4 separate regions of the Homo sapiens genome follow, and all the other regions are linked to region 1. Evidence: fine-mapped expression QTL. A gene starts in region 1. Each other region holds a variant in brackets. All regions are shown on one strand. Distances are between the middles of the regions.

Region 1 (8,107 bases):
GAGGCGAGTGCTGGTGGGACATGAGGATACAGGAGTCCTCAAATATTAATACTTCCAGAGGCACAGAGACTGGGGCAGCCACTGTGGAGAGGCATCTGGCACTATTTAATCAAATTCAGTCTCTGCAAGCCTATAATCCAGCAATTCCACAGAAATATTATACAGCTTTGTAAGGAGACATGTAGGAAGATGTTCACTGCAGCAATATTTATGGTGTTAGGGGGTAGGAACAACTTGAGTAACCACTCACTACACAGAGAGCAGATAAAGCAAAACCAATGGATGCAAACAGCATGGGGTATAAATGCAGCATTCCAAAGCAGAGAATTAGACACATAACAATATGGATGGATCTTAAAAACACTACTCAGAGACCTGGCATGGTGGTTCATACCTGTAATCCCAGTACTTTGGGAGGCCAAGGCAGGCGGATCACCTGAGGTCAGGAGTTCGAGACCAGCCTGGCCAACATGGTGAAACCCCGTCTCTACTAAAATACAAAAAAATTAGCTGGGCGTGGTGGCGCATGACTGTAATTCCAGCTACTCAAGAGGCTGAGGCAGGAAATGGCTTGAACCCGGGAGGCGGAGGCTGCAGTGAGCCGAGATCTCGCCACTGTACTCCAGCCTGGGCAACAGAGTGAGACTCTTGTCTCAAAAGTCTCCAAAAAAAAAAAAAAAAAAAACCAAACTACATAAAGGAAAATGAATTACAGCATTATAAATCAAGATACATACACATAAAACAAACATTCCCACTTTGCAAGCTCCTACATAAACAAAAGGAAGCACATGCAATGCATTAAGAATGAACACCTGTGAGACATGAGATGAATGGGACAAGGGAATTCTACAACAAAACCAATCTTTTAGATTCCTTGCGTGTTATAAAAGAAAAACTCTTATGACCTACGATAAACACAGAATTGTTTCCTTCCCCAAAGTTCCCAATTTTCCAAACAACAAAAGCTACTCTGGTTGCCAGTTCTGTTGATGAGTAACAGCTTTTCATCCTTTTTCAATCAGGAAGGGAAAATTCAGGGATCAGCAAAGTACAAAAGGGATGAGCAGAGAATATTTACGAAACAGTGTTTTTGTTCTCATGACCTGACAATCTGACTGAAAAAGACCTGATTACCTCTTGATTTGGGATGATTCAGCTACAGGCAGGTTGGTGTCAAGTTTTCAGGTCATCTGAAGCGATTTACTTTCAGAACCTCTTCCCACGCAATCCTCTTGCCTCCCTGTAGAAATAATACCCTGCACTACTTGAAAACTTAAAATTCTTGAGCTAGAGAGGGCCCAGTTATTTTACAGATGAGGAAACGAAGACTCAGGGAAGAATTATGGTGTGAGTCACACAGCTCTAGCTTGAAAAGGTCTCCCTGACTCAGCCCTTGTCCTCTTCCTGTCTATTCTCAACCCAGCAGCCAGTTATCCTTTTAAAACATAAGTCATCATCAACTTCACTGTTCAAAGCTCTCCAACGGCTTCCCCCTCACTCAGTGTAAAGGCCAAAATCCTTACAATGACCTACACTGATGTGTCCTCCCCACTCCCACCCCCTCTCATCTGCTGCCACCTCCCCCCAACCCACATCCACACTGACTGGCCACCATGACCTTGCCACCCCTAACATGCCAAGCATGCTCCTGCACCAGGGTTTGGAACATGCTCATCCCACTGCCTCCTGCTCACTTCCTCATTTCCTTCCAGTCTCCCACCATGAGTTAGGCCAGGTGTGGTGGCCCATGCCTGTAATCCCAGCACTTTGGGAGGCCAAGGTGGGTGGATCGCTTGAGGCCAGGAGTTCCAGACCAGCCTGAGCGACATAGTGAAACCCCGCGTCTACTAAAAATACAAACATTGGCCCAGCGTGGTGATATAAGCCTGCAGTCCCAGCTTACTCGGGAGGCTGAGATGGGAGGATCACTTGAGCCCAGGAGGTTGAGGCTACAGTGAGCTGTGATCACGCCACTGCACTCCAGCCTGGGTGACAGAGCAAGACTCTGTCTCCAAAAAAAAAAAAGTTATCTCAGTAGAGGCTTTATTTGACCCCTCTATATAAAAAGTAAATCCCCTACCACACATATACATACACACACACACACTCTTACCCTTTCCTGACTCTAAAGTTCTCCACAGCATTATGATCCTTTGACCTATTCATTCACATATTTGTCTGTTTCCACCCAATTAGAATGTGTCTGTTCCACGAGGGCTTAGTCTGTTTTGTTCAAACTGGTTCCCCCTCCCAGCACCCACAGCATACACAAGTGCTACCACGACCCCGGCACACACAGGTGCCCCCCACAAGCACATACAGGTGTTCCTCCTCCCGGCACACACAGGTGCCCACCCTCTCAGCACACACAGGTGCTCAGTGAGAATGTGTTCAGTGAATAAACAAGTAAGGACCAAAAGCCATGCCTTCAGACTCCTCACACAATGCCCTATGTGCCTGCCCTCAAGTGCTGGTTCAATTCTTGGTGGTCACGTCCTTCAGTCAGAAGAAAAGATCTAGAAATCTAAAAATGAAATAATACATTTTAGCTACTCTATTTCACCTCCCACAGCTGCCTTTCATAGCAGGGAGGATAAAGAACACAACTAAAAGTTAACATCTTGGTTTAACGGCTCTTTCATTAAAGAGCTCATTTTACTGCTGCTACTTAAGAACTTTCTGCCTTTCCAGGCAAGAAACTAATAACTCATAATTAACTCCTGACCAACAAGACTAAGTTAACCAATCTTGAAAATTAGCTTATTCAGATGTTTTCCAGAGTGTGTATAATAAGAAACTATTTCATATTAATTGAATTGGTGTTGCAAAACTTTCCAGAAGTATTCTGAATGAATTCTAAGGATGCTTTGGCAGATGATCAAGCACATTCGAGAATTTCACAGGAGATAATCTCGTAATAATACCATGTTGTAGGTAATCCATTAGCTGACTCTAGAAACAACAGAATACTAAACCTAGAAAATAAGCCAAAAGCCAGGCTCGGTGGCTCACGCCTGTAATCCCAGCATTTTGGGAGGCTGAGGCAGGCGGATCACCTGAAGTCAGGAGCCAGAAAAGAGGAAGAGATTGATGGAACGTTGAGGGAAATGCCCTGCCTTGGGGCTGCAAGACAAATAAATAACTGGTGCATATTTAAACAGATCGTTTATGAAGATTATTATTATCTCAGCCAAAAAATACACAATATGAACACTGTATAAAAGTCAATTTATCACATTCTCTGAGTCAGACTGTTCTTGGCTTATTGCAAAAGTTATCAGTGCACTGCACGAACCCCGTTCCCAAGCCAGACTTGAGCTACTCTCCACCCTCCAGAAATCACTCCATTGCAGCCTCTGAATTTAAGTGAATTTAACACGTAAGTATCTGCAATTTGAAAAGTCACTTTTCACTTATTTTAGCCCAACCCTGATAAAGTGACTGAGAGAGCTGAGAATAATGAATTTGAAGATTCGCTATGCCCCATTATGCAGAATTCTAAAAATCTTTTCTTCTTAAAACATTTTTATTATCACAATGAGTGACGTGTTTCAAGTTAACATGTAAAATCGGAGAACTCGAGACAGAAGAGGACCTTAGAGATCCTTTAATTCAATATTTTAGAGAAAAATGGGTAGAGGATAAACTAACTTGCTGATCACCGTGTCGGTATTCATGCTGTGAAAGTAATAAACGGAACACCAACTGAGAAATGATCCCCGAATGCTGTCAGGTACTTCAGTCTTGCAAAAACTACTACAGATTAATCAGTCCTGCTCATCCGTTTAACTCAGCTATGTAAACAAGCAGAGCTAGACTATGCTCAAACCCTAAATATTAGCGTTACCACTCGCCTGCCACATACTACAGCATCATTAGTTATGAAAGTGTTTTAATACAAGATCTTCATGTTTGTGTAAAAGAATTACTATAAAACAGACCTAAAGGCAAGTTACCCATATTCCAGAATAAGTGAGTGCCAAAAATATTCACCCTTCATTACAGTACAAATGAGACAGGCAGTAATAATGAGACTGCATTTAAAGTTGTTTTTGCACTTAAAATTTAAGTCTATACTCCTCATCTGCATCAGGCCCCGGCCTGTTTGGTAACCTCAATATTCCTTTACTAAAGTGACAGCATCACCACCCTTTGAGACACAGATGCCCGGTGGACATCTGTGCCTGCAGCAGGAACGCGGGTGTCCGCGGGTTTCTGCAAAACTCCACCATGACCAAAGCTGCATCTCCAGCTGAACAGGTCTAACCCTTGCTTCGGAAGCCATCTGTCCCTGTCTCCCTGACACAGAATCACGGCCTCCTATGCCGTAAGGCTCCGAACATCTGTAAAATCAGCGGGGTGGACTAACGCAGAATTCTTTTTCCAGCTCTCAAAATTCCGCCTCATTGCCGGAGTGGCAGGGCGGTGCAGAGAAAGAGCCCTGGGCTTGACACCGCTTGAAAAGCCCACGTTCGCATTGCTCTGACCACCCCTCCAACTCCCGGGGACTACAGGAGTGCGAGGGGGCCCGCTGCGCCCCACTGTCCCTCGCGGGCTCCTGGCCCACAGAGCGCAGCACAGCGCCGCCGCTGGGAAAGGGCCGATACAGGCCTAGCCGCGCGGCGCGGCGCGGCGCGTCTCTCGGGGTGCGGGTCCCCTCCGCCCGCGGCCCCGGACCGCGACCCCCGCTCCCCGCCCGGCCCCCGCCCGGCTCCGGCCTGGCCCGGCCTCTGACCTGCTTTCCGCCGCCCGGCGGTCCCTCGGCGCGGCAGGCAGTTGCAGCCGCCAGTCCCCAGCCCGCTGTCACCTCCGCCCCTGGAAGCGGCGGGCGGGTCGATCCCGTGTGAGTCAGCGCGCCGCCCCGCCTCCCGCTCAGGCTTCCGCCTCTGCCGGCGCGGTCCGCGCGGCCCCGGGGGCGCCAAGCTCCGCTGCCCGCGCGCCCACCTCTCCGGCGCCCGCCCCGCGCTCGCGCCCCCTGGCGGCCGGCCCGGCCCTGCTCGCCTCGCGACGTCAGAGGGGCGTCGCTCCCAGAACGGCCACCGGGGAAACTGAGGCACGGGGGCCCGCCCCCGCCGCAGCGCGCCGACACGGCTCGTCGGGCCTCGGCCTCACGCAGTCCTACGTGCAGCCCCGGCTGCGGACAAGTTCCTCCACTCTTGCTGTTCCCCCACTCCCGACACCACCCTCCAACCTAGAAAAAAGTCAAAATTCCATTCAGAGAAGTCCAAGTCGATTCCTGTCTGCGTGTGATGCTGTCCTCTTTGCTACCCCGAGGCAGTTTCCCTTATTATGCCACACAATACTCGCTGGGGTTCGCCTCTATCTGTCCCATTTTTTTCTGAGGAAAGTCTCTCAGGACATCTTTGAGAATTTGAGAGCAAGAAATGACAGAAGCAAGAACTGGGCAGGGCTGTCAGAACTCCTCCTCCGACTCAGTTTCTGAATCCCCGCAGTATTCCCGTTGTTTGTTTAAAGACCACGAAGTTACACAGCTTGGCTATGTTGCTGGAATTGCTGCGCCTCACGTTTCTGGAATCTACCTAGAGGATTCTGAAGAAGGCGGCGAGTCTATGACTGTGCATGCACAACAAAAATAAATATTTCACAAATCTCATCCCATGCTGTATATGTTTCTCCTTCCCTTTGCTTTTTAAAAACTTGTGGTTAAATATATATCACATGAAATTTACCATTTTAATCCTTTTTAAGTGTACAGTTCAGTGGCATTAAGTACATTGACATTGTTCTGCAACCATCACCACCATCCAGCTCCAGAACTTTTTCATCTTCCCAAACTGAAACTGTACCCATTAAACACTAACTCCTCATTCTCCAGCCCCTGGTAACCATCATTCTACTTTCTGTCTCTATGATTACTCTGGATACCTCATATAAGTGGGATCATACAATATTGTCCTTTTGTGAGTGGCTTCTTTCACCTAGCATAATGTCTTCAAGGCTCACCCATGTTGTAGCATGCGTTAGAATATCCTTCCTTTTGAAGGCTGAATAATACTCAATTGTACGTATATAACATCTTTGGTTTATCCCATCTTTCTGTGGACATTTGGGTTGTTTGTACCTTTAGGCTATGGTGAATAATGCTGCAATGAACATGGGTGTACAAATATCTGAGTCCCTACTTTCAATTCTTTTGGGTATATATCCAGAAGAATTGCTGGATCATGTGGTAATTCTGTGTTTAATTTTTTGAGAAGCCACCATACTGTTTTTTTTTCCTTTGCTTTTTGAAGCATGTTAACACTGTAAAGAGAACATTTTGTAGTAAAATATCAACGTTCGGAGAGTCTTTAAAATTCTTAGCAATGCTTCATTTGCCTGTAAAACTGTGACTTTTCGGCGGATCACGAGGTCAAGAGAACGAGACCATCCTGGTCAACATGGTGAAACCCTGTCTCTACTAAAAATAAAAAATTAGCTGGTCATGGTGGTGGGTGCCTGTAGTCCCAGCTACTCGGGAGGCTGAGGCAGGAGAATCGCTTGAACCCGGGAGGTAGAGGTTGCAGTGAGCTGAGATCGCGCCACTGCACTCCAGCGTGGTGACACAGCGAGACTCCGTCTCAAATAAATAAATAAATAAATAAATAAATAAATATTTTAAAACAAGTGACTTTTCTTTCCTCAAGAAAGTAATTAACATTGCAAATCTATTGTCTTTATTTTTGGATAATGTTATTAGCCAAAATAAAAATAACTTATTATTCAGTTTCCTACAATTTTGTTTTCTGTGGATGTAGCTTTCTAAAGTTGTTTGGAGTCAAGTATGCCATATGAAATTCAGATGAAAAATCAAGCATTTCGTTTTATTTATTTTTTTCGCCACGTTGGTCAGGCTGGGCTTGAACTCCTGACCTCAGGTGATCCACCCTCCTCGGCCTCCCAAAGTACTGGGATTACAGGCATGAACCACTGCGCCCAGCCTGGGGATCGGAGTTTTTTGTTTGTTTGTTTTTTTGAGACGGAGTCTCGCTCCGTCTCCCAGGCTTGAGTGCAGCGGCGTGATCTCGGCTCATTGCAAGCTCCGCCTTCTGGGTTCCCGCCATTCTCCTGCCTCAGCCTCCCGAGTAGCTGGTACTGCAGGCGCCCGCCACCACGCCTGGCTAATTTTTTTTTTGTATTTTTGTAGTAGAAACGGACTATCACCGTGTTAGCCAGGATTGTCTCCATCTCCTGACCTTGTGGAGTTTTTAAAGATAATTTGGCTGGTGGGGTCTTGAGAAGTGGGGAGTGCTGATTGGTCAGGTTGGAGATGGAAACATAGGGGGTCAAAATGAGGTTTTCTTGCTGTTTTCTGCTCCTGGGTGCAATGCAGAACTGGTTGAGCCAGATTACCGGTCTGGATGGTGTCAGCAGATCCATCAACTGCAGGGTCTGCAAAATATCTCAAATACTGATCTTAGGTTTTGAAATAGTGATGTTATTCCAGGAGCAATTTGGGAGGTTCAGGCTCTTGGAGTCAGAGGCTGCATGACCCCTAAACTGTAATTTTTTTTTTTTTTTTTTTTTTTGAGACGGAGTCTTAGTCTACCGCCCAGGCTGGAGTGCAGGGGTGCAATCTCAGCTCACTGCAACCTCCACCTCCCGAGTTGAAGCGATTCTCGTGCCTCAGCCTCCCTAGTAGCTGAAATTACAAGCATGCACCACCACGTCCAGCTAATTTTTGTATTTTTAGTAGAGATGAGGTTTCACATTGTTGGCCAGGCTGGTCTCAAACTCCTGGCCTCAAGTGATCCATCCACCTCAGTCTCCCAAAGTTCTGGGATTACAGGTGTGAGCCACCACTCCCGGCCTTAAACTGTAATTTCTAATCTTGTAGCTAATTTGTTAGTCCTGCAAAGGCAGACTGGTCCCTAGGCAAGAAGGGGGTCTTTTTGGCAAAGGGCTATTATCAATTTTGTTTCAGAGTCATGAACTGAATTCTTTCCCAAAGTTAGTTCAGCCTATGCCCAGGAATGAACGAGGACAACTTAAAGGTTAGAAGCAAGATGGGGTCAGTTAGGTCTGCTTTCTTTCACTTCATAAGTTCCTCAGTTAAAATTTTGCAAAGGTGGTTTTATACTTTTCATTTATCAATGAATTCTTA
Region 2 (8,107 bases), 320 kb before region 1:
TACTATGATTACTTTTTCCAAGAAAAAGAGGAAAGAGAAGCCCTAAGGGAGAGGTGTATACATGGCATAGCAGTAGAGAATTAAGTGAGGGCTTTTCTGTTTCTTACTTAGGGGTTTATGCATGGATTGGAATCAACTTTGTTTTGGGAAGATTCGACCACGAGGATGGTGAGTAATATTGTCTTTTTATGACAGTTTACCTAAGGGCTGAAGATTTAAGTTATAACCTATCAGTAGCATGTAAATGCAAATTTTGAGTTGTTTTTCTTTTTTCAAACATAAGATGCTTCATTTTCCAGTCCTAATTTGCTTTCTTTGATTTCTTTTTAACTTTTTAATATGGAAAGTTTCAAACATTCACAAAAGTAGAATAATAAAATGAACCTCCATGGACCCATTACCCAGGCTCAATATTTACTAATGTTTTGCCATTTCTCCCCCATATCCCCCCATGTATTAAAGGTTTTTTTTTCTCATTGAATGTTTTAAAAAGCAAACCCCAGACATGTAATTTTTATTTTCATGTATGTCAGTATGTATCTACAACAGATAAGGGGTTTCAAAATGAACAAAAAATATATCCATAATGCCATTTTTAAATTTAATAGAATTAACAATTTCTAATATCATACAATACGTATCTAATACCCTATCCAGGTATAGATTTTCCTGATTTTCTCAAGAATGTTTATTCGTAGTGGGCTTGTTCAAATCAGAATCTGAACAAGGGTCATGCATTGCATTTGATTAATATGTCTCTTTAGTCTCTTTTAATCTATAATTGTTAACCTTACCACCTCACTCCCCTGCCTTTAAAAGCAAGAAAAAATTGGATCACCTGGTAGAAAGAATTTGCCACATGCTAGATTTGATTGACTGCATCTTTGTGGGGTTAACATGTTTTCTTTAACATGTTTCTTATCCCCTCATATGTCCTTTAAACTGGAGGTCAGATATAGATGTTTGATTAGACTCAGATTCAATTCCATCTGCAAGACTAAATCATAGAAGGCGCTGTGTGTTTTCCACTACTCACATCAGGAGTTTTGTAATGTCTGGTTGACTCACTTTTTGTCATGCTCAGACTGATCAGGTATTGAGAGTTCAAGTATTATCAGCCTGATCTAACTTAGTATTAAAATTCCTTATCTGCCTTTCATGGAATTGTGGTAATAGCCAATTGTGATCATTGCTTGGACATGTTTTTCATTAGAGATTGCAAAATGGTGATATTTCTAATTCTGTCATTCCTTCTGCATTTAACAGCTAGAATTTTTATGTAATGAACTTTTCTTGATCAACTCTTTGGTTACCCTGACATATAGTTCTTATGGGAAAGACAGAATAAATCCTTGATTCTTTTTATTTATCACATTTCTGAATAATGAGTTGGTGTCTAGCAACTTCCAAAGGTAACCAGTGAAAAAAAAGTTTTAATTATTATTATGAACTCATGGATTTTAATATATTAGATGCATTAGAGCCCATCACATTATTAGTATTTTAAGGAGCATCTTTAGGTTGGCTGCTGTATCCTTTTAATATGACCCCAATACTCTTTTATATTCCCCTTGCTATCTGGTACAGCAATGTATTCCAGGGTCATCTTGTATACTTTCTACCCTAGACCTGGCATTGGCCTGTTTTTAAAAGAGCCCTGGTTTCTTTTAGTAAAAGATGGTATTTAGAGATTATTGGTCCAGATACCACAGGTGGTCATTACTCCTGGGATATCATTGCTTCTAGGCCTTTCAGTGAACACAGCTAGGAAATATGTATTTTTTAGAAAGAGAAAAATAAATGAGTTCATAGTCATATTTCTGACTCATATGTAAGATTATAGGGTGCTATTAATTTATTTGATTTTTATACCTATATCCTTTTTGTTCTGTTATGCTGAATCTTTGTTCCTAAAGATATTGACATAAACATTTATTTGTTTTATTCCACAATATGTTTCATAATTTTTTTTTTTTTTTTGAGACAGTCTTGCTCTGTCACCCAGGCTGGAGTGCAGTGGTGCAATCTCGGCTCACTACAACCTCCGCCTGTCGGGTTCAAGCGATTCTCCTGCCTCAGCCCCCTGAGTAGTTGGGATTACAGGTGTGCAGCACCATGCCCGGCTAATTTTTGTGTTTTAGTAGAGACAGGGTTTCACCATGTTGGTCAGGCTGGTCTCGAACTCCTGACCTTGTGATCTGCCTGCCTCAGTCTCCCTTCATAATTTTTAAATAATAAAACCAACAATATTGTTAACAAGACTACTGCGATGTAGCTTAAGATATTTGTTTCTTTTGTCCTTAGGCTATATCCTACTAGGGATACGTAGTCAAAATGTCATGTTTAAGTAATTCACAAGAATTATTCTTTGTGTAATATATAGTTGATTCAGTTAGTATACTTGTTTGCTTTCTTTTTTTTATTTTGAGACAGGTTCTCTGTCACTGAGGCTAGAGTTTAGTGGTGCGATAATAGCTCACTGCAGCCTCAAACTCTTGGGCACAAATGATCCTCTGGCCTCAGCCTCCTGAGTAGCTGGGACTACAGGTGTGCACCACCATGCCCAGCTAATTAAAAAAAATTTTTTTTTTTTATGAGAGTGTCTCACTATGTTGCCTAGGCTGGTCTTGAACTCCTCGGCTCACATAATCCTCCCACCTTGGCCTCCCAGTGTTTTGGGATTACAGGTGTGAGCCATGGCACCTGCCTGCTTTCAAATTTTCAAGGGATTGCTGTTTTGGGGGTTTGACTTAATTTTATTTTTTAATTACTAGGGCCTTTTTGTTCTCTTATTTATTTCAGAATCAGATGCTGAGGCTACCCAGGAATTGGCAGCAGGACGGAGAAGGACAGTAGGGATACTGGATATGGGAGGAGCCTCTCTCCAAATTGCTTATGAAGTTCCTACCTCAACCTCTGTCCTTCCTGCAAAGCAGGTACTTTACCTTTTAGGGAAATTTAGTTGCTAGGAATGCTAGTATTTGAGAAGGAAGGACACTGTCTTTGGACTTAGACCAACCTACCTGGCTCTAAATATTTGTTCAGATACTTGCTAGCTTGCGTTATCTTGAGTAGGTTACCTCTCTGAGCCTCAGCTTCCTCCTGTGTGAAAAAGGAATAATAATAGTATCTACCTCATAAAGTTATGAGGATGAAATAATACCATGTTTGTAAAGCATTTAGCAAACTGTCCAGCATAAGTGTTCAATACATTTTAACAATTATAACTATACTAGGTATCTCCTGCCATTGCTGAGGATAAACATGATAATGCATTTACATTCTGGAGCACAGTATTTGATACATATCTATTGTTCAATAAATGTTATTCCCTTTCCCCTTACTGATGATTCCATTCTGGGCCTTCTAATAATCCTTACCCCACTAGAATGTAAAGAATGTATTTTGAGGGAGAAGTTTCATCCTACACAGACACTTTTTGTACAGCCATTATGTACACCTATTATGTACACCCATTATGTGCAAGGAATAGACAATATTATGTACAAGGAATAGACATGTGAGTTACACTGTCCCTAAAAACTTATAATTTATCTGTCAGTGGAGACAGCTTGTGATATCAGGGAGACTGTAGCAGTGCTTAACTTGATCTAAACCAGGGCTTCTCATCGTTGGCACTCTTGACATTTTGGGTCAGATAATTCTTTGTCATCAGGGGTTATCCCATGCATCATATGATATCTCTTGCCTATACCAGATGTCAGTAACAACCCTCCCCCTTCCAGTTGTGACAATCAAAAGTGTCTCCAGACATTACCAGATGTGTGGGGCAGGGTGGAAATTGCCCATCATTGAGAACATCTGGTTTAAACAGAGAGCTGTGGCAATATGGGGACTGGCAGCCAACTTAGCTTGCAAAGTTGAATGGGAGCCATTCTTGCTTCATGGAAGGTAAAGTATTTACCTGGGCCTTGGATGAGAGTAGGCTTTTTTTTTTTTGCAGAGTGGAGGCTGAGGGAAGGCCACCTGCATGGAGGGAACACTATATACAAAGGCACAGAAAAAGCAGCACAGAGGCCAGAATGTCCAGGGAATGACGAATAGCCTTTTGCAGTATAGGATTTTCAGGTGTGCTAGTAGTTAAGACTGGGAAGATAAGATGGAGCTAAATCATGAGCAGTATTGAGTGCTATCATAAGGGGACTGGCTTTTATTTCCATAGATAGTGGAAAACCACCAAAAGTTTTTGAGTAAGGCAGTCACATGGGCCTCAGTTTCATTTATAAAATAATTAAACTGTGAAGGTCCTTCTCAGCTCTGAATTTTGTGATGATGTCAGTTGTGTGACTGTGATCTGATCTTTTTGTAGTGAAAAAATTTTTGTGTCAGTAGGAGAAAGAATATAGGTCA[C/T]GGAACCTTGAGTGAGAAGTAATAAAGGGCTGAGTTAGACAAAGTAAGTGGAAATGAAAGGGAGGGGACAGATTTCAGGGGATAGTTTGGAGTGAAAACCCAATGTAATTGAGCGATTGATTGTGGTAGTGTGAGTAGGGTGGGAGGATGGCCAGCAGTGCTGAGGATCTATCCTAGATAACCAGAAGACTGAGGAACCCAGTAACTGAGAGAAGAGCAACAGGGGTAAGGGCAGGGGTGATATTAAGCAAACAGTATTGTCCTGAGAGATCTGGATGAGAGCGTCTATCTGGTCTTCTAGTTCAGAAGTTGTAAAACTAATGACTTCAATTTTGGATATATTGAGTTTAAGATACCCAAGGAACATATATGTCAGAATATCCACAGGACTGTTGGAAATGTGAGTTTAGCAGTCAGCAGAGAATTTCATGCTGGGGTTGGAAATGTGGGGGACTAACTAGGTTGTGATACTTTTTAGTCTATATTCGTTAGTATGTATTTAACAGGTAAAACGAAGGCATGGATCTGATACTAAGAAATAGGTGACAAGCGGGACTGGGGCTTCAAGTCTTAAAGAAATGACTTTTGTGTGTGTGCAGATTTAGAAAGGAACATGGTTATGGAAAGCAACACTGGTACGGAATGCATACTTGCAAGCAACAAATTAGATTTACATATAGCAGGCCGGGCACGGTGGCTGACGCCTGTAATCCCAGCACTTTGGGAAGCCAAGGCGGGTGGATCACCTGAGGTCAGGAGTTTAGGACCAGTCTGGCCAACATGGTGAAACCCCGTCTCTACTAAAAATACAAAAATTAGCTGGGCAGGGTGGGCAGGCACCTCTAACCCTGCTACTCAGGAGGCTGAGGCAGGAGAATCGCTTGAACCTGGGAGGCAGAAGTTGCAGTGAGCCAAGATCGCACCACTGCATTCCAGCCTGGGTGACAGAGTGAGACCCCATCTCAAAAAAAAAAAAAATAGTAACTACACATAGCAATATAATGGCTCTTCAAGATGAATCTTAGTGCTTGGTAAAAATGAAAGAAACTGTGAGACAATGGCATTTAAAACATTTTAAATAATCCTGAATGCCTAATATATTTTTTTGTACAACTCACAAAGTTATGTACATTCACAAAGTTGTGCAGCCACCACTATTGAATTCCAGAACATTTCATCGCCCCAAAAAGAAACCCCATATTCACTCCCCACTCATTTCCCATTAGCAGTCACTCCTCATTCTCTCCTCTCCCTACCCCTGACAACTATTCATCTACTTTCTCTCTCCAGTGGATTTGCCTATTCCGGACATTTTGTATAAATGAAATCATACAATATGTGGTGTTTTATGTCTGGCTTCTTTTATTTAGCAAAATGTTTTCAAGGTTCAGCCATCTCGTGGTATGGGTATTTCATTCCTTTTTAATGGCTAAACAGCATTCCATTGTATGACCAACCATGCTGTATTTTGTTTATCCATTTATCAGCTGATGAACATTTCAGTGGTTTTCCCTTTTTGGCTATTATGCACAGTGCTGCTGTGAACATTCATATACACATTTTTCTATGTACATAAGTTTTTTTGTTTTTTTTTTTTTTTGAGATGGGGTTTCACTCTTGTCACTCAGGCTGGAGTGCCATGGCACGATCTCGGCTCACTGCAACCTCTGCCTCCCAGGTTCAAGCGATTCTCCTGCCTCAGCCTCCTGAGTAGCTGGGATTACAGGCACCCACCACCATGCCTGGCTAATTTTTGTATTTTTAGTAGAGACGGAGTTTCACCATGTTGGCCAGGCTGGTCTCGAACTCCTGGCCTCAAGTGATCCACCCTCCTTGGCCTCCCAAAGTGCTGGGATTATAGGCATGAGCCACCATGCCCACCCCAGTTTTTGGATCTCTTGGTATGTACCTTGGAGTGAAATTGCAGGGCACAATGGTATTTTTCACAAATTAAAAAGAAATACATTCAAAACAAGAATCCTCATTTTATAATAATACATATATACAAAAATTATACATAACACATTAGAATGGTTGCCCATGGCAGAGAATGGAATGAGATTAAGTATGAAGATAAAAGAGAATAAATAAATAAAGCAAAAGAGAGGCTTTGCCATGATAATGTGGAATGAGCTGAGGAATATGATTAATTCAGCCTCTGCCCTTGAGGTTCAAGAAAAAAATATAGCACCTTTTCATTGGCGGTACAATAAAATTGAACTTTCCCAATCCCCAAACCTGTCATAAGGAACCTTAGGGCTTCTTGGATAATGTTAGAAAAGGCCACAGAACCGGGCACAGTGGCTCACACCTGTAATCCCAGCACTTTGGGAGGCTGAGAAGGGCTGATCATGAGGTCAAGAGATCGAGAACATCCTGGCCAACATGGTGAAACCCGTCTCCACTAAAAATACAAAAATTAGCTGGGCATGGTGGCACGTGCCTGTAGTCCCAACTACTCAGGAGGCTGAGGCAGCAGAATTGCTTGAACCCGGGAGGCGGAGGTTGCAGTGAGCCGAGAGCATGCCACTGCACTCCAGCCTGGTGACACAGTGAGACTCTGTCTCAAAAAAAAAAAGAAAAGAAAAAGAAAAGGCCACAGAATAGATCTTATGATGATCCACAGAGTTCCTTAAATTTATTTTTATTAAAGGATGTTTTCCTATTAAAATAACACATTCCCATTGAGGGAATTGGAAAATACAGAAAAATACATGTGAGAAAATGATATCTGTAGTAATTCTACCTCCTATATAACTACAGATAGTGTTTTGGGTTTCTAATTTCATATTTAGTTCTTAATTTAGTGTCTAATTTGTACCTTTTAGTGCAGTCTTGTCATTTTGTGTCTTTGTTTAAAATAATGCTATGAGGATGAAAGAATGCTTAAGATGTTTTAAAGAGTAGTCATAGAAATGAAGCCTCGTGTATTAGCAATGTCATAGCTTTCTAGAAGGCAACCAAAACTAAAATTCCCTTTTTCTCTTGGTATTGTATTATAGGAAGAAGCTGCCAAGATCCTGCTGGCTGAGTTCAACCTGGGCTGTGATGTGCAACACACTGAACACGTGTACAGGGTTTATGTCACAACTTTTCTGGGTTTCGGAGGCAACTTTGCCCGGCAGCGCTACGAAGACCTTGTTCTGAATGAAACTCTTAACAAAAACAGGTACATTTGATATGGGATCTGAGTTTCTGAAATATAATGTCAGGCTGCAGATATTAGGGAGAAATACTCACATCCTCCTAAGACAGATAAGTCCCTGCTTCCTCCTTCTTTCTGACTACCCCTGCCAATGGGGTAGCATCTCTTAAAGACCTCTATTAGCAGTCCCACTCTGGGTGAGGGTGCATTCTGATCTTTGTTATTAGGACTCATAAAGTACAGTAGCTTATTGTGATCTCTTGCTGTTTCCCATATTCAGACCTAACATCATGGGAAAAGGGAGATGAATTAAATTGCCAGTTTAAAATGTACAATATATAGTGTAGCTGCTAGCAGTTCCTTCTGCATGGAAGTGTTCAAGACATGTTTGTTGAATTACAGTGCAGTTGCATCTTTTGTGAGAGTTCAGTTCTGTAGTATGTCTAAAAGATAAAAAGCAAGCATAGTTAAAATTAACTTTTAAAATGGTCTCTCATCAAATTCATAATAGTCAGTTTTTCCTTTAGCATTGGACAGATCACAGATTCTTCATTTGAGTACCAGATGAAGTAGTTAGACCTTAATGTACAA
Region 3 (8,107 bases), 47 kb before region 1:
AGAAGCACGAGTAACTGAGTTATATGCCTGAACCGTCTGTTTATTTTCACATAACACCATTTTATGTGCAAGAATGAATAACAGACAACTATGTTTATTCAGACTTAGATATCTGGCAGATGTTTCCTCCAAAATGAAAGTGAGTCTGAAACATCAAGGAGAACAAATGACAGTATTTGTTGCCAATGATAAAATTCCAACTTCCAAGAGAAAATGAGAATTTTGGAAAACTTGTATCTACTACCATGGGCTTGGCAGCTTTCCCATACTTAAAGATTCTTCTGATGAGATAGTAACAAATATGATTTTTTCACATTGTATGTTGAAATGGTCAACATTTGGAATAACTGAGTAGCTAATTGAATCAATATTTCCTAAATGACAAATGCATGCTGGTATAAAATCATTCATGGCTAAAAGATTCACACTCCAAAAGCAAGATAGATTAATGAATTTTAGTGTAATATTATGAAAGTTCACCGACGTAGTTTCAGATCCCACACTGCAATTAACTCGTAAGAAATTACCAATCGTTGAATTTTGGTGCAGTGTCAACGATGAATATTTGCAATTATTTGAAAAGACTATTAAAATACCTTTTCCTGTCTCCCATTGCATATTTGTGTAAGGCTGGATTTTCTTCACATAATTCCATGAAAACAACACATTGCAACAGATTGAATACAGATGCAAATAGAATCTGGTTTTCTTTTAGTAAGTTGAACATTAAAAATATTTACGAACATGTAAAGCAATGTCATTCCTCATTAATTTTTTTTTGTTTGGAAAGCTATACTTATTTTTCATAAAAATATGTTATTTACGTAAATATGTAATGGGTTTTTAATAGACTGATAAACAAGTTTTAAAAATTCCCAGTTGTAATAGCTAATATGATAAATATCAACAGACACAGCCCACATAAACAAAAGCTCTTTGGGAAAAATACAATAATTAGCCAGGTGTGGTGGTGCCCACCTGTGGTCACAGATACTTGGAAGGCTGAGGCGGGAGAGTCACTTGAACCTGGGAAGTCAAGGCTGCAGTGAGCCATGGCTGTGCTACTTGCACTCCAGCCTGGGCGACAGAGAAAGACACTGTCTCAAAAACAAAAACAAAACAAAAAAACCACCCAAAAAAACAAAAAAGCTCTTTGGGGTCTCAATAACTTTTAAGAGTATACAGGGAGGCCAGGTGCAGTGGCTCACACCTGTAATTCCAGCACTTTGGGAGGCTGAGGTAGAAGGATTGCTGGAGCAGAAGAGTTCAAGATCAGCCTGGGCAACATAGTGAGACCGCGTCTCTATTTAAAATTTAAAAAAAAATTAGCCGGTGTGGTGGTGAGCGCTATAGTCCCAGCTACTTGGGAACCTGAGGCAGGAGGATCGCTTCAGCCCAGGAATTTGAGCCTGCAGTGAGCTATGATGGCACCACTGCACTCCGGCCCGGGCAACAGAGTGAGACCGTGTCTCAAAAAAAAAAAACAAAAAAAAAACAAATCTTTAGTAAAGGGTTCTTTGTTGGAGATGAAGGGTATGGACAATGAATGTTCAATCATGTTCTCCAGAGGCCTTCTTGAACTGTCCCTATCCTGAAAATATATTATAATGAGATCTTAAAAGAAGGTACCAATAATCACCACTTTTGTTTTTGAAAATAACCAATTTTCAGGTTATCCTCACAAAACGTAAGCTGAACAGTTAGCATCTGTCTTATTGTAGAAGAAGTTGAGGTAAAGAAAGGATAAGAGCACAGTATATGTTTCTGGAAAAATGAAATTAAAATTCAGTTCTATATGATTTATGATTTAATTTTGAAAAAATTACTCTAATTTTATCAACTGTTTTATAACAAACTCTTGATTATCTGATTATAAGCTATTCACTTGTAGATTATCTATTTTAATCTTACAGTTAAGATTAAAGTTAATCTTACCTATACTTTTATAGTTAAAATTTCTTTCTCACTCAGTACCCAAGTCAGAGGTGCTCAAGGAATGCACCTGGCCTAGGTAAAATAAGATCTGGGTAGCAAAGCACCTGGCAAAATCCTATGAGTCATTTTATAGTCAAGCACATTGGAAAACTGGGTTATCTTTTATGCTCTTGATTTTTACATGCTCTTGATTTAAAAAAAAATTAGGCCAGGTGCGGTGGCTCACGCCTGTAATCCCAGCACTTCGGGAGGCCGAGGTGCGCAGGATCACCTCAGGTCAGGAGTTCAAGACTAGCCTGGCCAACATGGTGAAACCCTGTGTCTACTAAAAATACAAAATTAGCCAGGTGGGGGGGTGCACGCCTATAACCCCAGCTACTCGAGAGGCTGAGGCAGAAAAATGGCTTGAACCTGGGAGGCAGAGGTTGCAGTGAGCTGAGGCTGCACCATTGCACTCCAGCCTGTGTGACGAGAGCAAAACTCCATCTCAACAACAACAAAAAATTTAAGTCTACTCAGGCAAGGTGGCTATTGCCTGTAGTCTCAGCTACTCGTGAGGCTGAGGTGGAAGACTGCTTGAGCCCAACAGTTCAAGGCTACAGTGAACTATGATCGGACCACTGCACTCCAGCCTGGGTGACAAAGAGAGGCCCTGTCTCTAAAAAATAAAATAAAATAAATAAATAAGAAAAAAAAAAACTAAGTCTGTCTTATATTCCCAAGTAGGTTACAGTTCCTTAATGGTAGGTACCACCTTCTCTTTGGTATCTCAAGAGTCTGGTATGATGCCTTTTGCATGGCAAGCACTTGATGTTCATTTGCTAATGATGATTATTCTTCAACTCCAACTCCCAAATAAATTCATTACATTCTGCTTTCCAAACTGACTTCTGCTGCTCATTTCCTTTTTTCTTCTAATTCCTTCTTTCAAAATATTTCTTCCCTTTTTCTTTTTTTTTTTTTTTTTTTTTTTGTGGAGACAGGGTCTCACCCTATCACCAAGGCTGAGTGCAGTGGTGCAATCATGGCTTACTGCAGCCTTGACCACCCGGGCTCAACTGATTGTCCCACCTCAGCCTCCTAAGTAGCTGAGACTACAGGCATGCGCCACCATACCTAATTTTTATTTTGACAGGGTCTCACTATGTTGCCCAGGCTGGTCTCGAACTCCTGGACTCAAGTGATCCACCCGCCTGAGTCTCCCACAGTGCTGGGATTTCAGGTATGAGCCACTGTGCCCGGCCTCTTCCTTCTACTAATTGCTCTATGCTACGACCCTGGTCCAATTCCCACCATCTCACCCTTTGAAATCTTGTCCCCACGCATTATTTCTTCAAGTCTACCAATTGATTCATGACAAATCAAGATTACAAATGCACCAGTTTTACCATCTCCCTCCCCGGGCCAAACTTTTACCATGAAGCACAAGGAGCCTACTGCTAATGGCTTCTTCCTCAGTAATCCTATTCTTATTACCCAAAATATATAAAAAATAAATTTGCTCTGGACACTCTCTGTAGAGGTTTACTGAGCTACCAAAAGACTTATGCTTTCACCCCAAAGCAAACTTACATTCATGATTATCCAGTCACAACTTTCCCCTTCTCCAACTATCCAATATTATCTCACCTATGATATGAGACCCTATTCCACACAAGGAGGTTTTTATTGTTATGAAGCCGCATCATTATTAACCCCAAAGCCTTACTCCAGTTACACTGTCTCTCCATCTGAAACCTAGGCTTGCTTCTCTAAAAAACCTTAGAAGCTCA[C/T]ATTCATCTTGGCTGTCTATAGCCTAGAAAAGAAATTATTGTCTATATCATGAATTCTGACACTTGTATTTTTATATACTATACAGCACCTAACATAAGATTTTACACTTAGAGAGAGTTGCCCAAAATATTTTCACAAATTTGATATTATTTGGTTTCAGTGTTCCCCAAAAATAGGGTCTTGGTCCTGTATTTCTACATTCCTTTAACTTATGATTCCCTATCCCTTGGTCAGAAGTTGGGGTCCTAAAAAATCACAAGGCTGGGCGCAGTGGCTCACGCCTGTAATCCCAGCACTTTGGGACGCCGAGGCAGGGGGATCACGAGGTCAGGAGATTGAGACCATCCTGGCTAACACGGTGAAACCCTGTCTCTACTAAAATTACAAAACGTTAGCCGGGTGTGGTGGCGGGCGCCTGTAGTCCCAGCTACCAGGGAGGCTGAGGCAGGAGAACGGTGTGAACCTGGGAGGCGGAGCTTGCAGTGAGCCGAGATTGTGCCACTGCACTCCAGCCTGGGCGATAGAGCGAGACTCCGTCTCAAAAAAAAAAACAAACAAAAAACCACAAGTAATTTTTCCCCCTCTGGCCCTAAGGCCATCCATCGAGAACACAGAGGGAATGCACTGGTGACTGACTGCTGTTCAGACACAATGGGCCTCTTGGTGAAGGGGAAGAATAAAAGCGTGCCATAACTCCCACTCTGCTGGCTTTGAAATCAACTGGCTTTCTTAAAGCTGTAGAATTATGCTATTTTCCTTGTTTTGTCAGATCCCCCTGAACCCATATAATAAGGCTTGTTTTCCTATCTATTTTCAACAGGATAACTGTTTTGATAAGCTTTATTACCTGATGGACTGCTATTTTATTGGTTATTTCTACACAGTAAAGGTGAATCTTGAAAAACATACACAATTTAGAACCTGGAAAGTACTTTAGAGATTATTTAGTTCAATACCCTTTTTATTTTAAAATTCATTTGATTATTATTATTTTTTGAGACAGGGTCTCAGTCTGTTACCCAGGCTGGAGGGCAGTGGCTCAATCACTGCTCATTGTAGCCTTGACCTCCCAGGCTCAAGCAATCCTCCTGCCTCAGCCTCCTGAGTAGCTGGGACTACAGGTGTGTGCCACTGTGCCCAGCTAATTTTTTTTTTTGTTATTGTGGAGATGGGGTCTCATTTGTTGCCCAAGCTGGCCTCAAACTCCTGGGCTCAAGTGATCCTCCCACCTAGGCCTCCTAAACTGCTGAGATTAAAGGTGTGGGTCACCATATTCTGCCTCAATGCCCCTGTTTTATAGCCCTGTTACTGAACCGTAAGTCTCTGTTTTTCATCAGAAAGAGTCATACAAGCTATTCCCCTGGGGTCCTAGGTGATTCCTTAGGAACGGATCACTTTTTCCATTAGATTGGTATCTCCAGAATAACTAGTGGTCATTCCCAGACTTCTGAAATGCCAATATGAGGAACTCCTGCACGAGCAAGACCAGATTTTGAGAACAGAAAAATAGGAAGTGTGGTGACCCTTAGGGTCAGCCTGAGCCTTTGACTCATGCACAATTAATCCCAGCCACACTGCTTGTTTCCTCTGGTTGGATTTTTTATTTGAACAGGAAATGCATTAGGAATAAAATGGTAAAAAGGAGTGCAGGTCTTCTTAGAATCGGATATGAGCAGTCTGACTGCAGTCCTGGGTTCCTCACGGACTCCTTTTGGGCTGTCTCTAAATGCCAGGGGAACTATGTGCTTTATGCAGCCTGACCACGTAGAGTATTTTATTCAGGTTTCCATACGAGCCATGTCAGAACTTCTTTCCTGAGAGTTCACATTCATGGCATCACAAATTTATAACACATGTGCTTTGACTGATGAATACCACTGGTCAATTTATTTTTTATTGGCCTGTTGTTTGAGGGGGCAGGTTATAGGCAAGGGATGAGGATTCTGTCTTACGTGAGGCAATTATTAGTGATATTTTATCACTTGTCATAATATGCACTAACTTGTTTCTCTCCTCTCTGTCTTTTCCTTGTCCTATTCTCTCTCTTTTTTTTTTTTTTTTTTTTTTTTGGAGACAGAGACTTGCTCTGTCGCCCAGGCTGCAGTGCAGTGGTGCGATCTCGGCTCGCTGCAACCTCTGCTTTCCGGGTTCGAGCAATTTCTCCTGCCTCAGCCTCCCGAGGAGCTGGGATTACAGGTGCCTGCCACCATGCTGGTAGTGATGGGGTTTCACCATCTTGGCCAGGTTGATCTCAAACTCCTGACCTCGTGATCCACCCGCCTCAGCCTCCCAAAGTGCTGGGATTACAGGCGTGAGCCACTGCGCCCAGCCTCCTTGCACTAATCTCTTATTTTGGCTTTGTTCTTTACTCCCCTCCACCCCCCACCTTTCTTTTCTCCTGTTTTTGTTTTTTTTTTAGGATAGTCAGGGGCACTGGCCACCTGTTTTGATTCTTCTTCTAAGAGACAGACTTGTTTCTCAGTTTAAATATAACTCGAGGCCAGGCGTGGTGGCTCATGCCTGTAATCCCAGCACTTTGGCAGGTCGAGGCAGGCGGATTGCTTGAAGTCAGGAGTTCGAGACCAGCTTGGCCAAAATGGTGAAACCCTGTCTCTACTAAAAATACAAAAATTAGTTGGGTGTGGTGGCACACACCTGTAATCCCAGCTATTCGGGAGGCTAAGGCATGAATATCACTTGAACCAACGAGGCGGAAGTGGCAGTGAGCAGAAATTGCGCCACTGCACTCCCGCCTGGGCGACAGTGTGAGACTCCAGCCCAAGGAAAAAAAAAAAATATATATATATATATATATTTTAACTCAAAACAGTAGGAATAGTCCAAAACAATTACATAGCTTCAGGAAAAGGAAGAAGGGTGACATCTGCTGGAACAAAGATCAGTGGTTCTGATTTCACATAGAATCTCTCTGAGAACAGACACACAAAACTTCACAGACTTATCCCAGAAACAAGATACCCAAAGCACATCAATGAAGCCCAGGCGCCCAGGTTAAGACTAATAAGAATAGCTAGCATTTACTGAGCGCTTACCTACTACCACATGCTTTCCATGTACAACCTCATCTAATCCTCACAATCACCCTGAGGTAGGTATTATATTATTATCCTCATTTTGTAGATAAGAAAACTGAGGCTGAGAGACTTAAGTAACTAGTCCAAGGTCACAGCTATTAAGTGGTGGACTTGGATTTAAACTTAGGCCTGTCAGAATTCTTATCCCCTAAGCTATACTGCCTGCTCTAAATACATATAGACATCTATAAATTACACATATATTTTTTCTCTTATTAATCCTAATGATACTTCTTAAAGGTAAGTAAGTAACAGTGAACTAAAAAGGCACGTGGTAAAACACAACAGATCTCAAACATTATCTCACATACTTTTTTTTTTTTTTTTTTGAGATGGAGTTTCGCTCTTGTTGCCCAGGCTGGACTGCAGTGGCGCAATCTTGGCTCTCTGCAACCTCCACCTCCCGGGTTCAAGCAATTCTCCTGCCTCAGCCTCCCAAGTAGCTGCAATTACAGGTATGCACCATCATGCCCAGCTAATTTTGTATTTTTAGTAAAGATGGGGTTTCACCATGTTGGCCAGGCTGGTCTCGAACTCCTTACCTCAGGTGATCCACCCGCCTAGGCCTCCCAAAGTGCTGGGATTACAGGCTTGAGCTACCATGCCTGGCCCCACATACTCTTAAGGTTTCCAAATCCCCTCCTGACCTATTCCATCATCAACATTTCATTTACAGACACACTGATCTAATGGAAAAAGTGATTTTCAGTCTAGGAAGTTGAAGCGCCATCCCAAGCACTAGACTTAAAAAACAGGAAACCTAGATGCAAGTCTGATAAACTTGCATATCTGGCATAAAACAATACTTTCATTTTTTAGTGATTTTGTTTCCCACCAGTAAATACCTGTTGATGTGACTTGTCACGTATACAAAAAGAGAAATTAAAATCATTTGTGCACAAGCTAAGTTTCCCAGAAAAAGGCAAATTGCATAGGTATAACTAACTTCTCCATCCTCCAAGCCTTGTGTTTCCAAATTAAAAGACAGAGCTAAAAAAAAAACGTGAAAGGCATAGAAGGAAAGCTGACTGGTCAGTGTGTTTACTGGCAGTAGATTATCACAGAGAGGAGAACAAGATAAAACCATGGATAATTAGTACATCTCATTCTAGTCTCTCTTTCCCAGTGTATCCCCCTGCCCACATCCTCTTCCTTTGGATTCCACTTACATCTTTAAGCTTATTAGGCTTAACTGGTTAAAAGGTAGTCAAGATAAAATCTAGATTCCAGGTCCTGGCCTGACCTTGAGTCAGTCTTCAGACAGGTGACTCACGATGCCAGATTCTTTCTGAGAATCTCTCGGA
Region 4 (8,107 bases), 78 kb before region 1:
CTGGAACTCAGAGACGAAACCATGGAGTGACAGGTGGGTGGCGCAACTTATAAAGGGGAAGGGAGGTGGGCAGATAAAACACAAAGAAATGGCCATTTATGAGCACCTACTATGTTCCGGATATGTGACTGTTTTATTTTTCTATCTCATTATGAGAGAGGTATTATCTTCACTTTACAAATTGAGAATCCGAAGCTCCAAGAGGTTAAGTAATTTTTGTCAAGTTAAGGCCATTTAGTAAATGGTGGAGCTGAGATTTGAACTCAGGGCAGACCAACTCTGATGCTTGTTCCTTTGTGTAATTACACAGTGTTCCCTTGTAATATTCAGGAAGGGCAATGGCGTGAGAGAGCTAACAAAGAACGTTAGAATGCTGAAAGATTTCTAGTAAAGACAGAATTTGTTATAGGTCAAGAAGGATATTAGGGGTACAAAAAGGGGTGAACTAAATATGAATATACTTTCAAAAGTTAAGTCCTCAAAGATAAAGAGAGTTGTAGAAATGGAAATGATATTGGGTGGAACCGAGCTGGTTTCAGGGAGATCAGAGGGCACATTACAACACTGCAGAGAGAAGGGTTTCACTCCTGTTAAGTCAAACAGAATAAACACACTTTGATTACAGTTGGGAGGCTTAATACAATAAGGAACTAAACATAGGAAACAAAGTTCACCAAAGGAACAGATGCGGGGGGAAGGGAAGAGGAACAATACAAAAACCAATATAAAGAATCACAGAATCAGACTTTTTTCTTTTTTAGCTGGAAGGAATTTAGAAGTTATCCAGTCCCTATCATTTCAGAGAGAAAATGCACCTAGGAAAAAATGACTAGCTGCTAAAAACCTCAGCCTCCCAACTAAAGCTGGGTTTGGTTTCATTTTTGTCTTTATAGGTGCAGGTTAAGAGCCTGTTAGGTCCAAAATGGTGCCCCAGAAATTCAAGTTAAGTCAAGCCCATGTTGGAAGACCACCAGGTAAACCACCGGCCATCCCAGGACCATAGCAGGCTTATCTTTTCAGTCTGTGGTGGCCCCTAGTACAAATCTAACCAGCCAGCCCATTCTGAAGGAGACCTAGACGAGAAACTTTCTACTTAAGGGGAGGGCATGAGATGGATTTTTCAGATCATTCACATTCTCTGACTAACCTTTATCCTCTGGTCACAGCCTGGACCCCAAAATTGGCCAGAACCAGAAAGGCCGTTTGGCATGAAGACAACATACAGCATACACACACACGAAAGGTTTAACAGAGAGTTCAGTAATTATAAAAATAACACAGTAGAAATAAAGCTCACTTATGAGAACTGAAGAAAAGATATAATGGCAAGAAAGAAAGAACCTCTACATGATAAAAGACTCCTAATATTCTCATTTCACAGACAACGTAGTTAAGGCTCAGTGAGATGAAGTGATTTGAAAGCTAGAAATAATCTTCTGGAATCCACAAGAGTGTCAGTACTCATCATTCACTTAAGATTCCTGAATGTCAAGGAGTGAACAATCTATAAAACAAATCAGGGCTACTCTGGGCACACTGCCTATGGGGTAGCCCTGCTCTGAAAGGAGCGGTAAAAAAAAAAAATTAAAATGAAGGCCTGGCAATGGTGGCTTACACTTGTAATCCCAGTACTTTGGGAAGCAGAGGTGGGTGGTTCGCTCAAGCCCAGGAGTTCAAGATCAGCCTGGGCAACATGGTGAAACCCTGCCCCTACAAAAAAATAAAAAAGTAGCCGGGCATGGTGGCATGTACCCATAGTCCCAGCTACTCAGGAGGCTAAAGTGGGAGGATCTCTTGAGCCCAGGAGTTTGAGGCTGCAGTGAGCCATGACCGTGCCACTGTTCTCCAGCCAGGGGGACAGAATGAGATCTTGTTTCAAAAAAATAAATAAATAAAAATAAAGTCAAGTCTTCTTTTCCATTAATGTCCAAAGAAGTGTAGAGACTGAGAGAAAAAAAAAAAAACATGCCAGGAAAATGAATTTTAGCTTGATGCCCTGATAATAAACTTGCTGCCTCGACAAGATGAACAAAAACATGAAAGTAAGAAAGGAAAGATACTTGAGATTAGAGACATCTGAAAAAACCAGGAAGCGTAAATAAAAGTTCCCATGAGAGCGCTATCCGAATGTTGCATATTTTTAGCACTGTATATATACTCTTGCTCTGTACAATGCCTTCCAAAGTAATTAAATCTCTAAGGTTGTTCTCACTCAAGGTGCACTTGATAAGAAGTTCAGGGCCCGGGCTCCTTAAGAACACAAGTGCTCCTAGTACCTGGTATAACTACCCTTTAAATCTATCTTTATGCTTTATCTTAAGAAGGCTGGCTGAGTTCATACCTTGGGTTTTCTTGCTGTTTTGCACGAACTCTGAGCGCCTCAGGGTGCTGGGTGCTGTGCGGCGGAGGCAACTATTCCTTCTCCAAGTCTCTGGGCCATTTAATTTTTTCTCTTCCTCTAAATGCCAGATGTTCTTCTCTAATGACGAGCTCTGAGGAATCCCCAAATGATGTCCTCCTTGTTCTCCCCTGGTACACTGAGTCTGCAGACCATCCAGAAGGATCCTGCTGCCCCCATGTGCCTTTGTTCTTGGTATGTCAGTGCCATTATACTCCAAATTCTCCATTTGATGGAGAGAATCTGTCCCTCTGGAATTACGAGATTTATATGCACAGTTTGCAAATAAAGCATCATAGCCTTTATTTTCTGTATCAAAATCACCCTGATCCATAATATGAGTCTTTGCTTTGGGATACATGTTGTCATTTTGATGAACATTCCTGTCCCCTTCATGGTATTTGATAAATTCCTTATCTTCATTGACACCATTCGAATCTGAAAAGCTCACAGGCTGACCATCAGGATAACTCCCAGGAACATGATATAAATTGCTGTGTTCTCTACAATAAAAATTAGTTGCCCAACAATCCTCAAGATTATGGTTAACATTCTCATGGTCTATATACCACAACTGAGGTTGACCTAAATTCGCTGAAGAATCATCCAAACCCCTACAGTCAGTCAACTGTTCAGCTTTTTTAGAGTCCTCAGGATTATAATTCAGATTCTTACAGTCTGAGTAGCCATTTGCCTCCCCGTATCCACCAGCTTTCGAGGTCACATCTGGGCTTCTCGTAGGTGAATTATCCTTCGTCCCAGGGCTGAGACTCTCATAATCTACATTTTCTGGACTCCTATAACCATCATGACCTCCGTGGTACACACAGCCCTTTCCACTTTCATGTGCTTCCCCACAGTCCATATAGCTTGGTTCACTCTGTTCAAAATCCCAGTATCCACAATCCCTTTTTCTGTAGGGCTGATGCTGTCCCTTGGCCCAGTACCTGGGATCCAAGTCATTTTCTCTGTAGAGTCCATCCAGCACTGTAAGGTTCCTTTTCCGTACACTCCCGTAGTCTTCATACTCCCAGCTGGAGTCCCAGTGCCTTTTCTCCTCCACTTCCCTTTCTTTTCTAGCCTTCTGGGTTTCACACATATTCTATGTGCTTAAAGACAAAGGTTTTACTATTCTTTTCCATGGGCCTGGGCTGGGCTGTGGACAGGTGCAGTCTAGCCTAAGGCTGGATTTGTCCTGCTTAAAATGTCTCCCAA[C/G]CATTCCAGACACTCTTCTCGTTGCTCTAGTCGGAGCGCAGTGAGATGTGGAGTTATTTCAACCTCAGGATCCAATCAGCGAGCTACTCTATCTTTCTCCAGAGGCCAGAAGATAATGAGTAACTAGTATGCATGTGATTGGAGTTGCCAGCTTTGTTTGGTGTTTCCCTCAAGCTGGTCAAACTGGCTTGGCTGCTTTACTTGCTGAAGATAGAGGCATTCTGCTACTCCAAAGGTTTTGCAGGAAAAGTCGTGTGAAAGAGAAACAGCACCCCTTTAGAAGTCCAGGTCAGGTCATATATCAGTCTCCCCCGCCTCTTTAATCCTTTAGTAAGCCACCAGGGGTATAAACAAGTGCTTTCCTTCTCAAGCTGCACCTCCATTCCCCATCCTCCAAGTCCACCTTTCTAATCCTTGAACATCTGAAACCTTTCAGGACTTCATCCCTTAACTTAGAGTCAGGACTCTTCTGACTGCTTTGCTTTTCTGGAATTGAAGTCACCAGTTAGTGTACACTCCAATCGCAAGCTGCTGAAGCTCCCACCTGCAGACAGTTAGTCATACGACTGAAGGAAGAAAAAGTACTTCCTTTTACTTTGATCTGGTGAGTAGGTGATTTTATAGCGTAAACATTCTTCCCAGAATGGAGTTAGGTATGCTTTCACATTTTCCCAGATACTTGTCATGCCAGGGAAGCATCAAAAACATTCATTTCTTAAACCTCTTTTCTAGTTAATTCATACAACATATTTAAGAAGTCGAAAATGAGGCCAGAAATCAAAAAGGCAGGTAAATGGCTATTTAAATCAACAAATATTAGATGGTTACCTATCATAGAGGAGGCATTGTGGAACAGAAAAAGACAAACAAATTAGTCCCTGCCTCTTACAATGCAGAAGCAACACGCTTAAAGAAAGATCTAATGTGATAAGTGCTATGGAGCAAAGACAAACAGCAACAGCACCAAAGCAAAGTCCCTGGCATGGCAAGTGGAGGCTTCAGGGAAGCGGTTGGATGTGAACAGTGACTTCTAGGAGAAGCAGGATCTCTGCAGACTTCACATATGGAGCACTAAGAAATGGGGAATCATCTGAAGGATATAATACGTGGAAAATAAGAGAGGAGGCTGAAGAGATAGGTTGGGGTGGACCCCAGAGGATGTCAATGACATTTATTTTATTCAATGGAAAGCAAAGAGTCATGAGGTTTTTGAGCAGGGGAAACACATGCTAAGAGACAGGCCTTAATAAGATTACTCTTTTAGCTGTCTGGTCATTTCTTAGATATCTAGGAATGATTCCTTGAACTTTAATCCTTATTTGTGAAATAATATCCAGAACCCTGAGGAAAACTGCCTTATATGCTTTGTTAATAATTACATGTTTACTCTTGGGTAACTACTAATTCTCTCTGGAACTCAATCTACCCATCAATAAAATGAGGCAGTTGGCCACAATGACTCCTCGGATTCCCCCAGCATGTTTCTAGATCACCTGCCCCCTCAAACAAAAGGCCAATAAAAAACAAATTGACCAGTGGTATTCATCAGTCAAAGCACATGTGTTGTAAATTTGTGATGCCATGAATGTGAGCTCTCAGGAAAGAAGTTCTGACATGGCTCGTATGGAAACCTGAATAAAATACTCTACGTGGTCAGGCTGCATAAAGCACATAGTTCCCCTGGCATTTAGAGACAGCCCAAAAGGAGTCCGTGAGGAACCCAGGACTGCAGTCAGACTGCTCATATCCGATTCTAAGAAGACCTGCACTCCTTTTTACCATTTTATTCCTAATGCATTTCCTGTTCAAATAAAAAATCCAACCAGAGGAAACAAGCAGTGTGGCTGGGATTAATTGTGCATGAGTCAAAGGCTCAGGCTGACCCTAAGGGTCACCACACTTCCTATTTTTCTGTTCTCAAAATCTGGTCTTGCTCGTGCAGGAGTTCCTCATATTGGCATTTCAGAAGTCTGGGAATGACCACTAGTTATTCTGGAGATACCAATCTAATGGAAAAAGTGATCCGTTCCTAAGGAATCACCTAGGATCCCAGGGGAATAGCTTGTATGACTCTTTCTGATGAAAAACAGAGACTTACGGTTCAGTAACAGGGCTATAAAACAGGGGCATTGAGGCAGAATATGGTGACCCACACCTTTAATCTCAGCAGTTTAGGAGGCCTAGGTGGGAGGATCACTTGAGCCCAGGAGTTTGAGGCCAGCTTGGGCAACAAATGAGACCCCATCTCCACAATAACAAAAAAAAAATTAGCTGGGCACAGTGGCACACACCTGTAGTCCCAGCTACTCAGGAGGCTGAGGCAGGAGGATTGCTTGAGCCTGGGAGGTCAAGGCTACAATGAGCAGTGATTGAGCCACTGCCCTCCAGCCTGGGTAACAGACTGAGACCCTGTCTCAAAAAATAATAATAATCAAATGAATTTTAAAATAAAAGGGGTATTGAACTAAATAATCTCTAAAGTACTTTCCAGGTTCTAAGTTGTGTATGTTTTTGAAGATTCACCTTTACTGTGTAGAAATAACCAATAAAATAGCAATCCATCAGGTAATAAAGCTTATCAAAACAGTTACCCTGTTGAAAATAGACAGGAAAACAAGCTTTATTATATGGGTTCAGGGGGATCTGGCAAAAAAGGAAAATAGCATAATTCTACAGCTTTAAGAAAGCCAGTTGATTTCAAAGCCAGCAGAGTGGGAGTTATGGCACGCTTTTATTCTTCCCCTTCACCAAGAGGCCCATTGTGTCTGAACAGCAGTCAGTCACCAGTGCATTCCCTCTGTGTTCTCGATGGATGGCCTTAGGGCCAGAGGGGGAAAAATCACTTGTTGTTGTTTTTGTTTTTTTGTTTTTTTTTGAGACGGAGTCTCGCTCTATCACTCAGGCTGGAGTGCAGTGGCGCGATCTTGGCTCACTGCAAGCTCCGCCTCCCAGGTTCACACCATTCTCCTGCCTCAGCCTCCGCAGCAGCTGGGACTACAGGCGCCCGCCACCATGCCCGGCTAAAGTTTTGTAATTTTAGTAGAGACAGGGTTTCACCGTGTTAGCCAGGATGGTCTCAATCTCCTGACCTCATGATCCCCCTGCCTCGGCGTCCCAAAGTGTTGGGATTACAGGCGTGAGCCACTGCGCCCAGCCTTGTGATTTTTTAGGACCCCAACTTCTGACCAAGGGATAGGGAATCATAAGTTAAAGGAATGCAGAAATACAGGACCAAGACCCTATTTTTGGGGAACACTGAAACCAAATAATATCAAATTTGTGAAAATGTTGGGCACCTCTCTCTAAGTCTAAAATCTTAGGTGCTGTATAGTATATAAAAATACCAGTGTCAGAATTCATGATGTAGACAATAATTTCTTTTCTAGGCTATAGACAGCCAAGATGAATGTGAGCTTCTAAGGTTTTTTAGAGAAGCAAGCCTAGGTTTCAGATGGAGAGACAGTGTAACTGGAGTAAGGCTTTGGGGTTAATAATGATGCGGCTTCATAACAATAAAAACCTCCTTGTGTGGAATAGGGTCTCATATCATAGGTGAGATAATATTGGATAGTTGGAGAAGGGGAAAGTTGTGACTGGATAATCATGAATGTAAGTTTGCTTTGGGGTGAAAGCATAAGTCTTTTGGTAGCTCAGTAAACCTCTACAGAGAGTGTCCAGAGCAAATTTATTTTTTATATATTTTGGGTAATAAGAATAGGATTACTGAGGAAGAAGCCATTAGCAGTAGGCTCCTTGTGCTTCATGGTAAAAGTTTGGCCCGGGGAGGGAGATGGTAAAACTGGTACATTTGTAATCTTGATTTGTCAGGAATCATTTGGTAGACGTGAGGAAATAATGCGTGGGGACAAGATTTCAAAGGGTGAGATGGTGGGAATTGGACCAGGGTCGTAGCATAGAGCAATTAGTAGAAGGAAGAGGCCGGGCACAGTGGCTCATACCTGAAATCCCAGCACTGTGGGAGACTCAGGCGGGTGGATCACTTGAGTCCAGGAGTTCGAGACCAGCCTGGGCAACATAGTGAGACCCTGTCAAAATAAAAATTAGGTATGGTGGCGCATGCCTGTAGTCTCAGCTACTTAGGAGGCTGAGGTGGGACAATCAGTTGAGCCCGGGTGGTCAAGGCTGCAGTAAGCCATGATTGCACCACTGCACTCAGCCTTGGTGATAGGGTGAGACCCTGTCTCCACAAAAAAAAAAAAAAAAAAAAAAAAAAGAAAAGAAAAAGGGAAGAAATATTTTGAAAGAAGGAATTAGAAGAAAAAAGGAAATGAGCAGCAGAAGTCAGTTTGGAAAGCAGAATGTAATGAATTTATTTGGGAGTTGGAGTTGAAGAATCATCATCATTAGCAAATGAACATCAAGTGCTTGCCATGCAAAAGGCATCATACCAGACTCTTGAGATACCAAAGAGAAGGTGGTACCTACCATTAAGGAACTGTAACCTACTTGGGAATATAAGACAGACTTAGTTTT

Direction of the effects. Positions count from the first base shown, and alleles are read on the strand shown. Sizes are in standard deviations (SD) of each study's normalised expression. Not every link is listed here.
As copies of C replace T in region 2, the expression in whole blood of the gene that starts at base 4,848 in region 1 goes up (moderate effect, 0.61 SD a copy in GTEx).
With allele C in place of G in region 4, the expression in thyroid of the gene that starts at base 4,848 in region 1 is lower (moderate effect, 0.72 SD a copy in GTEx).

What was found. PIP is the estimated chance that this variant, and not a neighbour inherited with it, causes the effect.
Region 2: its variant is fine-mapped to the expression of DNMBP in whole blood (TOPMed, PIP above 0.99).
Region 3: its variant is fine-mapped to the expression of DNMBP in whole blood (TOPMed, PIP above 0.99).
Region 4: its variant is fine-mapped to the expression of DNMBP in thyroid (GTEx, PIP above 0.99). The same link has a PIP of 0.9 or more in lung.

What each region holds. Positions count from the first base shown.
Region 1 is chr10:100,005,100-100,013,206 of GRCh38, forward strand. DNMBP (dynamin binding protein) reads right to left here and starts at 4,848. Exons shown (of 17, transcript NM_015221.4): 1 at 4,739-4,848. RefSeq lists enhancers at 1,275-1,354, 1,905-1,964 and a silencer at 4,621-5,140.
Region 2 is chr10:99,688,583-99,696,689 of GRCh38, forward strand. It overlaps ENTPD7 (ectonucleoside triphosphate diphosphohydrolase 7), which reads left to right. Exons shown (of 13, transcript NM_020354.5): 7 at 112-168; 8 at 2,803-2,936; 9 at 7,374-7,540. It also overlaps a transcript of COX15 not described here. Among named protein-coding and RNA genes, the nearest start is that of ENTPD7, 33 kb to the left of the region's middle. The variant C/T (reference allele first, on the strand shown) is at 4,372.
Region 3 is chr10:99,958,383-99,966,489 of GRCh38, forward strand. The region is part of intron 3 of DNMBP (dynamin binding protein); the gene reads right to left. It overlaps DNMBP-AS1 (DNMBP antisense RNA 1), which reads left to right. Exons shown (of 5, transcript NR_024130.3): 5 at 1-616. Among named protein-coding and RNA genes, the nearest start is that of DNMBP-AS1, 35 kb to the left of the region's middle. The variant C/T (reference allele first, on the strand shown) is at 3,708.
Region 4 is chr10:99,927,267-99,935,373 of GRCh38, forward strand. The region is part of intron 4 of DNMBP (dynamin binding protein); the gene reads right to left. DNMBP-AS1 (DNMBP antisense RNA 1) reads left to right here. Exons shown (of 5, transcript NR_024130.3): 1 at 1-33; 2 at 894-974. Among named protein-coding and RNA genes, the nearest start is that of DNMBP-AS1, 4.1 kb to the left of the region's middle. The variant C/G (reference allele first, on the strand shown) is at 3,614.